Regions from separate parts of the Homo sapiens genome. Here regions 1 and 3 are each reported to be linked to region 2. Evidence: microRNA targets listed by miRTarBase, many of them from high-throughput screens and not tested one by one. Region 2 holds a microRNA gene; each other region holds the end of a gene's coding sequence.
Evidence for each region. The annotated mature microRNA hsa-miR-520c-3p reads AAAGUGCUUCCUUUUAGAGGGU and lies in region 2 at 2,373-2,394, shown strand. An mRNA with a match to its seed (bases 2 to 7 or 8) in the 3' UTR can be bound and repressed. Matches are read on the target gene's strand: a 7mer-m8 pairs with bases 2 to 8, a 7mer-A1 pairs with bases 2 to 7 and ends in A, and an 8mer does both.

Region 1: the mRNA of FGF7 is a reported target of hsa-miR-520c-3p. Seed matches in the 3' UTR shown: 7mer-m8 at 1,620-1,626 and 7mer-m8 at 1,154-1,160.
Region 3: the mRNA of AVL9 is a reported target of hsa-miR-520c-3p. Seed matches in the 3' UTR shown: 7mer-m8 at 1,807-1,813 and 8mer at 1,378-1,385.

What each region holds. Positions count from the first base shown.
Region 1 is chr15:49,484,223-49,487,222 of GRCh38, reverse strand. FGF7 (fibroblast growth factor 7) reads right to left here. Exons shown (of 4, transcript NM_002009.4): 4 at 1-2,913. The coding sequence ends at 2,719. The region is part of intron 11 of FAM227B (family with sequence similarity 227 member B); the gene reads left to right. Among named protein-coding and RNA genes, the nearest start is that of FGF7, 62 kb to the right of the region's middle.
Region 2 is chr19:53,705,134-53,709,485 of GRCh38, forward strand. It overlaps MIR520C (microRNA 520c), which reads left to right and starts at 2,320; the gene lies at 2,320-2,406. It overlaps MIR526A1 (microRNA 526a-1), which reads left to right and starts at 1,119; the gene lies at 1,119-1,203. MIR518C (microRNA 518c) reads left to right here and starts at 3,602; the gene lies at 3,602-3,702. LOC107985346 (a long non-coding RNA gene) reads left to right here. Exons shown (of 5, transcript XR_001753998.1): 4 at 1,952-2,074; 5 at 3,136-3,176.
Region 3 is chr7:32,583,536-32,586,535 of GRCh38, reverse strand. AVL9 (AVL9 cell migration associated) reads right to left here. Exons shown (of 16, transcript NM_015060.3): 16 at 1-2,744. The coding sequence ends at 2,629. It also overlaps the pseudogene DPY19L1P1. Among named protein-coding and RNA genes, the nearest start is that of AVL9, 90 kb to the right of the region's middle.

The DNA.
Region 1 (3,000 bases), not on the chromosome of region 2:
AACAAAAGGTGAATAGGAATCAGAATTGAAAACTACATAATTTCTTTTCTCCTTTTGAGTCAAATCATCACAGTATAGATTAGTCATTGTGTATGAAGTGCATTGCCAAGACATAGTCACATTTGTGTACAAATGTAAAGGCTATATCTCAACAGAAATAAAAAACAAAAACATGCCAAAGACCATTAGCTAATAATACTAATAATCGAAGAGTAGAAAGCATGTGCTAACTGATCTAGACTCTTGTGACAGCTGTATATCTACCCAGCTGCGTGACCTTAGGTGTATCAAAATCTCAATTTCCTAGACTACAAATGAGTAAGAGGGATGGAGGCCCCTTACAGTTTTAATATTCTAGAATTCTAAAGGTGTGTAACTAGAGCAAATTTTATTTTCTAAAATTTGCATAATAAATTTAAAAATAGGAGAAAAACAAATAATTAAAGTACATATTTCTAGAAGTCTTTTTTAGGTGACTTATACTACCAGGAATGGATTTACCACTAAATGTTGGTTTTGCCTAATTCAGCATTGCTATGTAATTTGATGGAAGTATAACTCCATAGACAAAGAGCATTTGGTCCTAACATAGCTTGTATTTTATATGTATATACACTATTTCTATTTAAATTTCTGTATAGTCATGTTTTACCCTTTTAAAATGAAGATTAGTTTTAGTGTGTATTTTCTTTTGTCTATAAACATTCAGTGAATTCACACTGAAAACTGATTATGAACAGATAGTCTGCTAGGCACTAAGGAAACACATATGAAAAACTAAGTCCTCCTCTGCCCTCAATATGCTCACAAGACTACAGTTACTGAAGCCTGACCTCAAAACCTAGCTAGCAAAGTCCTTGAATCAGGTGATAGTTCAGAATACCATTCATGCTCTCTCCCAAGAGTATATCTGAGGAAGGGCAGTTCTTTCTAGTTTTCTACATCCTGGTCGTATAGGTCAACCACAGGAAAATTAAATGAATCTATTGTTTTTGTTGACCTAGCCTTTTCATATAACTCTCATCTATAAATGTATTACCAAATACTATTTATGTAAAGGGACTTGAATGACAAATATTTTGAAATTAAAACCACAGTGGTTAGCATACCTTTTAAATTAGATAAATATTGACCTCCCATTGGTGAACATATAAAGTGCTACCAAGATCTGCCAATGAAAGACTTTTGAAGTGGAAATTCATCCTTGTAATAATCCTGTTATCTGTAGGCTGACCTCAAGCCTTCATGACATTCAGGGCCCCTTATTCTTAACTGCATCTTCTATTTTGGGCATTGTGCTCTTGCCATCTAACAGGAAAACAACTTTCAGTGCTGCCACCTTTTGAACAGCAGAGATTTCTAGAGATTAGAAAATTACTAAATTTAAATATACATAGTTTTAAAATATGATATTTTCTACCCATGCATTCAAATATATTCTAACTTTAAAATCCTGTAAATACTTATATTTGTAATGATTTTACTTATATGATCCAATTAATTGGCAAGAATATGTGGTGAAAGATTTTTTACATATTTGTATTGTTCTGTGTGAGACATCTATTGTAAGCATTGCTTCAGGCTCTTATTTTTGTCTGCCTTCCAGGATTTGCTGGCCCAAGTGCTGTGTGCTAGACTTAGTGTCAGTCAGAAAAGGGAGGGAAACTTGCCGTTGAGCCAGACAGTTTTGTTATTCCTTTAAAATTAAAAGCATATGAAACAGATACAGCTTATTAAGGTTTTTTTTTTATAAATAACATAAACTTAAATAACAAAACAATAAAGTTCAAAAACAACTTAAAATAGAGTTTAATGCTGTAACCATAGGAAAAAAGCATGATTATTTGTGGGAAGAACATTATTAAAAGCCATATTCCCAAATATGAATTATACAAAGATAGATTATGTTACTTGAAAAAAACTTAAAGATTTCTCAATTTTACTTTGAGGATTTATAAAATGTTATTTTGTGGCAAGTAAGATGAAGTACAGTATTATCATCAATCACTGTTGCTATCTTATATACAAGATTTTTGGAAACATCCTTTTAGCAATACCCTTTCCACTTGAGCAGCATTAGAAATTTTGTTCTTATTTATAGGTATAAGCATGTTCTAATCCTGTACTTTTGTTAAATTATCTATTTTATTGACTTTCATAATAGTTTTTTTGAGAATTTTTTTTCTGATTAGAGTTTAAGTAGATTATAATTTTTCACTAGAAAGCATTTAAAATGCTGCTCATTTTCCATAGTTAGTGTGGCTTGATTATCTGACAAATCCTGCCAGAAGCCTGTAGGTCTGATATACCTTATATAACAACATCTGTATTATTATTATTATAGCAGCCATTTTATAAGCAGATAGGAATATTTAAATAATCATTATCAGATAATCAAATCTAACATACTCTTAAGGGTAAATTAATTTAAGAAAAAAATTACTGTTACTAACATCATGATTGTACAACCAGTTTTACAATTTTTTACAACCTTTAGTTACTAAATCTGATTTTTGTGTATACTTTTCAAATCTTTCTTTAATGCAGTGTCTTAAAACAAACATAAATGCACAAGTCCAGCTTGATCAGTTTTTCAGTAGTTTTCCAGCCTTTCTTGATTACTAAAAAATAAAAGGAAAGAAAATTTTGAGAAGAAAGAAAACAGTCCACTTAAAGAAATCTCCCTGCTGGAACTGGTTCTTTATATACCATATGCAATTAAGTTATTGCCATAGGAAGAAAGTGGGCTGTTTTTTGTTCTTTCTTCGTTTTTTTTCCTCTTACAGGAATCCCCTTTTGATTTAAGGCAACAAACATTTCCCCTCCGTTGTGTGTCCATTTAGCTGATGCATATGTGTTGTAATGGTTTTCCAGAATTAGTTCTTTGAAGTTACAATCTTCATTGCATTCTTTCTGTTAAAACAAACAAACAAACAGACATTATCCAAATGATTTTTAGAGAGGCTCAATTAAACGAAGAGTAAGCAGGTAATATTTGGT
Region 2 (4,352 bases):
GCAAAATTTTTTTTGTATTTTTAGAGCTGGGATTTTACCTTGTTGGCGAGGCTGGTCTGGAACTCCTGACCTCAGGTGACTCGCCCACCTTGGCCTCCCAACAAGTTATGCTGATCTTGGTAATAACTTCGCAGAGCGTGCTTCCATCAGACATGGAGGATGGTGGGGTCCTGTTTTGTTGTTGTTGTTTTTCTAAGATAGGGTCTCTTGCCCAGGCTGGAGTGTGTTGGCACTTCCAACCTAGGTGTCTTGGGCTCAAATGGTCCTCTTTTTTCGGACAGTCTTGCTCTGTGACCCATGCTGGAGTGTAGTGACGTGATCTCAGCTCACTGCAACCTCCACCTCCCAGTTTTAGGCAGTTCTCCTGCCTCACATTCCTGAGTAGCTGGGATTATAGGTGCCTGACACCATGCCTGGCTAATATTTGCATGTTATTTATTCATGTATTTATTTGTTTTGAGATGGAGTCTCACTGTCACTCAGGCCAGAGGGCAGTGGCAGGACCTCGGCTCACTCAAACCTTTGCCTCTCAGGTTCAAGCAAGTCTTCTGCCTCAACCTCCTGAGTAGCTGGAATCACAGGCACCCGTCACCACGCCCGGTTACTTTTGTATTTTTTTTTTCACCATGTTGGCCAGGCTGGTCTGAAACCCCTGACTTCATGTGAGCCGCCCGCCTCAGCCACCCAAAGTGGTGGGATTACAGGCATAAGCCACTGCGCCCGGCCAACAATGTATATTTTTCAACATGGGAGATTCAGTTTTGAATGCTCCCATCGGGACTGTGTGTCCCTGTGCTGGAACTCAAGTGAACGCTTGGCTCAAAATCCATTGCTGTTCTCTAGAAATCCAGCCCAATTCTCTTGGTTAAATGTAAGGTATGTGTAGTAGGCAATGCTTTTTCTGGAGACAGAACTCAGGAGGATTGTCCCTCGATGATCTAGGCTAACCTGCTGAGACTTTGAAGCAAGGAACTGGAGATGGTCCTTTTAGGGTTTTATGTTCTGGATTCCAGAAAACATGCAAACAGGGCCAATAAATGCATCCTCATTTTTGTGTCCATTTTAACCTGGTGAAGGAAAATTCCAACAAAAAACCCACAGTGCTGGAGCAAGAAGAGCTCAGGCTGTGACCCTCTAGAGGGAAGCACTTTCTGTTGCTTGAAAGAAGAGAAAGCGCTTCCTTTTAGAGGATTACTCTTTGAGAAAAACAACATTGAAGTTAATGCTGATCTTGGAGATCATGCTTATAATCAGACTTGGATGATGTTGGGGTTTTGTGGGGTTTTTTTGGTTTTTTTTCCTAAGACAGGGTGTCTGTTGCCCAGGCTGGAGTATGGTGGCCCCTCCAACCTAGATCTCTTGGGTTCAAGTGGCCCTCTTTTTTGGGACAGAGTCTTGCTCTGTGACCCTGGCTGGAGCTCAGTATCAGGAACTTTGCTCACTGCAACCTCTGCCTCCCAGGTTCAAATGATTCTCCTGCCTCAGCCTCCCGAGCAGCTGGGATTACAGGCATATGCCACCACGCCCAGCTAATTTTTGTATTATTGTTATGTATTTATTTTTTAACTTATTCATTTTAGAGACAGAGTCTCACTCTGTCGCCCAGGCTGGAGTGCAGTGGTGCGATCTCGGCTCACTGCAACCTCCAACTCCCAGCTCAGCCTCCTGAATAGCTGTCTGCAGGCATACACCACCACACCTGGCTAACTTTTGGTTTTTTTGTACAGATGTGGTTTCCCCATGTTGCCCAGGTTGGTCTCGAACTCCTTAGCTCAGGTGATCTTCCACCTTGGCCTCCTAAAGTGCTAGGATTAGTGGTGTGAGCTGTTGTGCCCCACCTATACTCGTCTGTTTCTGCTCAGATTTTATTGAGGAGCGTTTACAGGGTAGCCTGTTGTCTACCCTGCAGGATGTTTGTGCCTACAACAGTGTATATTCTTCAACATCTTAGATTCCATTTCGGATGCCCCCATGAGGACTGTGCGCTCCTGTACTGGAACTCAAGCGACCACTTGGCTCAAAATCCATTGCTATTCTCTAGAAATCCAGCCCAATTCTCTTGGTTAAAGATAAGGTATGTGTAGTAGGCATTGCCTTTTCTCTTTGGGAACAAAACTCAGGAGGATTGCCCGTTGATGAACAAGGCTAACCTGCTGATTCTTTGAAGCAAAGAACTGCAGATGGTCCTTTTAGGGATTTATGCTCTGGATTCCAGAAAACATGCAAACAGGGCAAATAAATGCATCTTTATTTTTGCGTCCATTTTAACCTGGTCAAGGAAGATTCCCACAAAAAATCCACAGTGCCAGAGCAAGAAGATCTCAGGCTGTCGTCCTCTAGAGGGAAGCACTTTCTGTTGTCTGAAAGAAAAGAAAGTGCTTCCTTTTAGAGGGTTACCGTTTGAGAAAAGCAACATTGAAGTTGATGCTGATCTTGGTAATACATTTTCAGAGCATGCTTATCATCAGAGATGGATGATGGTGGGCTTCTGTTTTTGTTTTGATTTTTTCTTTTTTTTTTTTTTGAGATGGAGTTTCGTTCTTGCTGCCCAAGCACTAGTATGTAGGAATTATTCTTTATGTGAGCATATAGTACATGGAACTTTGTTTTTTTGAGACAGGGTCTCCAAAATATATACATGTTATCATATAATCTTCTATGTATAATTATATTCACACAAAATAGTCTTCTGCACACAGAGAATACTCTTATATCACTTTGGGGTTGTTTTTGTTTGTGTATTTTTTTTTTTTTTAATTTTTTTTGAGACACCATCTGGCTCTATTGCCCAGGCTGGAGTGCAGTGTTGTGACCTCAACTCACTGCAGCCTCTACCTCCCACCTCAGCCTCCTGAATTAGTGTCTACAGGCATGAACCACTACACCTGGCTATCTTTTGTATTTTTACAGATGAGGTTTTACTATGTTGGGCAGGCTAGTTTTGAACTCGAGCTCATGTAATTTTCCCGCCTTCGACTCCTAAAGTGCTGGGATTAGAGGTGTAAGCCACTGCACTCCACCCGTACTTCTGTACAAATGTTATTGAGGAGCTTTTACGGCCTAGGCAGTGCTCTATCCTGGAGAATGTTTGTGTGTAAGACAATGCATATTCTTTTTTTCTTTCCTGTCACCCAGGCTGGAGTGCATTGGCACGATCTCGTCTCACTGCAACCTCCGCCTCCCGGGTTCAAGCAATTCTCCTGCCTCAGCCTCCTGAGTAGCTGGGATTACAGGTGGGCACCACCACGCCTGGCAAATTTAGATTCCATTTTGGATGCTCCCATCATGACTGTGTGTCCCTGTGCTGGAACTCAAGTGACCATGTGACTCAATCCATTGCTGTTCTCTAGAAATCCACCTCAATTCTCTTGGTTAAAGGTAAGGTATGTGTAGTGGGCATTGCTTTTTCTCCTTGGAGACAAAACTTAGGAGGATTCCCCTTGATGAACAAGGCTAATCTGCTGAGCCTGGAGATTGTCCTTTTAGAGGTTTATGTTCTGGATTCCAGAAAACGGTCAAACAGCGAATAAATGCATCTTTATATTTGTGTCCATCTTAACCTGGTCAAGGAAAATTTCAACAAAAATCCCAGATGGCTGGAGCGAGAAGATCTCATGCTGTGACTCTCTGGAGGGAAGCACTTTCTGTTGTCTGAAAGAAAACAAAGCGCTTCTCTTTAGAGTGTTACGGTTTGAGAAAAGCAACGTTGAAGTTGATGCTGATCTTGGTAATACATTCGCAGAGCATGCTTATCAGGCTTGGATGACGGCAGGGTTCTGTTTTGGTTTTATTTTTTTCCAAGACCAGTCTCTGTTGCCCAGGCTGGAGAGGGAGGGGTTGCACTCCAAACTAGATCTCTTGGGGTCATGTCTTGCTCTATTATTATTATTAATTCTTATTTTTGTGTGTGTGTGAGACGGAGTCTCGCTCTGTCACCAGGTTGGAGTCCAGTGGCGGAATCTCAGCTCACTGCAACCTCCGACTCCGTGGTTCAAGCGATTCTCCTGCCTCAGCCTCCTGAGTAGCTGGGATTACAGGCACGCACCGCCATGCCGAGCTAATTTTTGTATTTTTAGTAGAGACCGGGTTTCACCACGTTGGCCAGGATGGTCTCAAACTCCTGACCTCATGATCCACCCGCCTCGGCCTCCCAAAGTGCTGGGATTACAGGTGTGAGCCTCCGTGCCCAGCCTGTTATTTTATTTTGTTTTATTTTATTTATTTTATTTTATTTTGAGATGGAGACTGGCTCTGTCGCCCAGGCTGGAATGCAGTGGCAGGATCTCCACTCACTGTAACTCCCACCTCTGTCGCCCAGGCTGGAGTGCAGTGGCAGGATCTCCACTCACCGT
Region 3 (3,000 bases), not on the chromosome of region 2:
GCTGCTGCTTCTATGCTGGCCACTTGGAGCCTAGAATCCAAGCCTGAAGTATGTGTGTGTGTGGGGGGGGGGGGTCACAGGACCAGGGGTGAGGCTTCCTGCCTTTGATTGTGCGAGCTGCCTTGGGGCCCCTGCCAACAATACAACAGCCAGTGTTCCTTGAAAAACTCCACCTCCCAGAACCTGAAGGAAATATAGCTATGGTCTTTTGACCATTTCTATGATGAAAGTTGTATCTTCTGAGATACTTGTTTTATGTTGGAAAGTCAGTAAAGTGACCACTAAGAGTCAAACTCTTAGCTAGAAATGTTAATAGAAAGTCCGATCAAAGTGTATATTCAATGAGGAACAAGTGATATTAAAGCAAAGTTAAACTTCATGTAACTATTTTTATTTCAGTGGATTCCAAAGCATGAGTTGGGCTGCTTTTGAATAGTGGGAGACGGGAGTTTACCCCGATCACAGAAACCATACCAACTGAAAGACAAATCAGCATCTTGCTGGACGACCCCTCACAGAGCTCCTAGATCCTTGAAGTGTGAACTTCAGCAGCTGAGAGGTAACAATTGTACACAAATCACACTATCATGCTCCAACGAATGATGTGGCCCTTATGAAACAAGATGTTAGAATGAATTCTTTATAGTCTCAGCGCAAAAAAGATTCAAGTACTGTTTAAGGTTTTTGTTTGGTACTACTTTCTTCTCTTCAAACAGCATTTCCTGAGGTTAACTTTCTTGGAAGAAGTGGAATTAATGGAGTTCTCACATTCAGCCCTTCAATTTATCATCGCTGAATTCTTGAGTTATGCTCAAATGAGTAATACAATTTGTGTTTAGAAAACACAAAGTGGAAAATTTAGAGACATTTAGATTATGTTTCTATGTTCATTTCAAATGCCTTGGGAGCATTTACTTCTTAAACATTTAGTGAGGAATAAACCAAATATAATCAGGGCCCTCCTTTATTTCCCCAGCAATCTGGGATAGATCATACTCACAATGTATTTCCCAAGTATCCCTTGTTACTAAAAGGCAGTCTGTTCCCCGTAAGTACTCTCTGAGAACAGCCATCCCAGGTATCCTTGAAAAGCAAATGAGAGCTGAGCATGGCAAACACACGAGGTCCAGCTGTGTACAAATCATCAGTAGATGGCACACACATGCATGTATGTGCCTAACATGAAACCAGATATCCTTTCTCAGATGACAGATGTCAAGGCTGCAGTTTTCTTCTCTTGCCTCTTACTTTGCTGAATATAAACTAAGATGAGATTTCTATTTAATACTTACAATCACCTTGCTTTTCTTTTAAGATACTTCTAGAAGGGGGTAGGGATTGATTATAGGAGGACTTTCAGTTAGGGAAGTAGAAGACTAAGTGCTTTGAAAAGCTTTATGAATAAGACTACGAGAAAAGCTGTAGGTCTGCAAACACCCAATAGAAAACTGTTTAAAAAAGAAACAGGCCAGGCGCAGTGGCTCATGCCTGTAGTCCCAGCACTTTGAGAGGCTGAGGCGGGCAGATCACTTGAGGCCAGGAGATCAAGACCAGCCTGGCCAACATGGCAAAACCCCGTCTCTACTAAAAATACAATAATTAGCTGGGCATGGTGGCGCATGTCCATAATCCCAGCTACTTGGGAGGCTGAGGTACAAGAATTGCTTGAACCCGGGAGATGGAGGTTGCAGTGAGCCGAGATGGCACCACTGCACTCCAGCCTGGGCGATAGAGTGAGACCCCGCCCCCCCCCCCCCCCCAAAAAAAAAAAGAGAAACAGATGGCACAAACTCTGGAATAAAAAAAAAGTGCTTGTAAGACTGCAACATGACTGCGGTTGAAAAATAAACACATAGGTCTTCTTTGAAAGTATTGCCCTACAGACACATTCATGTTAAACTGCTTCAGTATCATCGAACCATCACTCTGCTATTTCTCTGCACACCCACCTGCACAGTTATAAAGAGGAGGAAAGCACAGTGATACTCCTTGATGTCTGAAACCAAGTTTTTAAGGATGTGGAAAGAACAAACTAAAAACGTAAAACAAAACACCCAATCCTCAGAACTACCACCTCTAACTTTCATGTTTCTGGGAGGAAGTGAATTAATAAATGTTTTGTGGGTAGAAAGCAAAAAAATCATCACATAATTCAGCAAAATAATGAAGGCCCAACTGTATGACCCCTTCACTTTATAAGCACGTTTTAAGGCCAACTTTAGAGAAAATGGTAATATAAATTAATTTTAGCAAGTATAAATTACAGTGACCATCTAGATATTCAAACACCAAAACAGAACAAAATTTACATAAGTAAAAACTCTTCTAAAGTAAACCAATGTACAATATCAGAACTCAAAATTCATTAGAAGGTTCACTGTATGTTTTAATCAGGCTCAGACTGAAATAAAAGTAGTCAATTGAAACCCCAACCTGGAAAGCCATCCCTGCTATGGCTGTGATTTCATCATTTCGGCATCCCGAAACATTCACTTAGAGCAACATCCATGTAAACAGTTCGACATATGGTCCCCTGCTGTGGATCTGTGGCTAGTAACAGCCTGGGAGCAGCAGACAGACAGGGGACACTTAAACCTCAGAAAGCAATAGCAGCCTCTGACGCCTTGCTCAAGGCTTCTCATCTGGTGGCTCAGTGAGACTTTGGGAGGTGGAAGTGGTGAAAGTGGAAAGCCATGAAGACATAGCTGTCTTTGCACTGGAAAAAGCTCCTCCAACTGACTGGCCTGGATGGAGAGGAGAAAAACAAAAGGAAAAATGTCTTAACTTTTGTTACGAGACAGTGAAAGACCAACATAATTAATACATTTTTAATTAAAAATTTAAAAAAATGTTTTTTGAGACAGCGTCTTACTCTGTCGCCCAGGCTGGAGTGCAGTGCAGTGGTCACGGCTCCCTGCAGCCTTGACATCCTAGGCTCAAGTGATCCTCCCACCTCAGCTTCCCAAGTAGCTAGGACCACAGGCCTGTGTGACCACACCT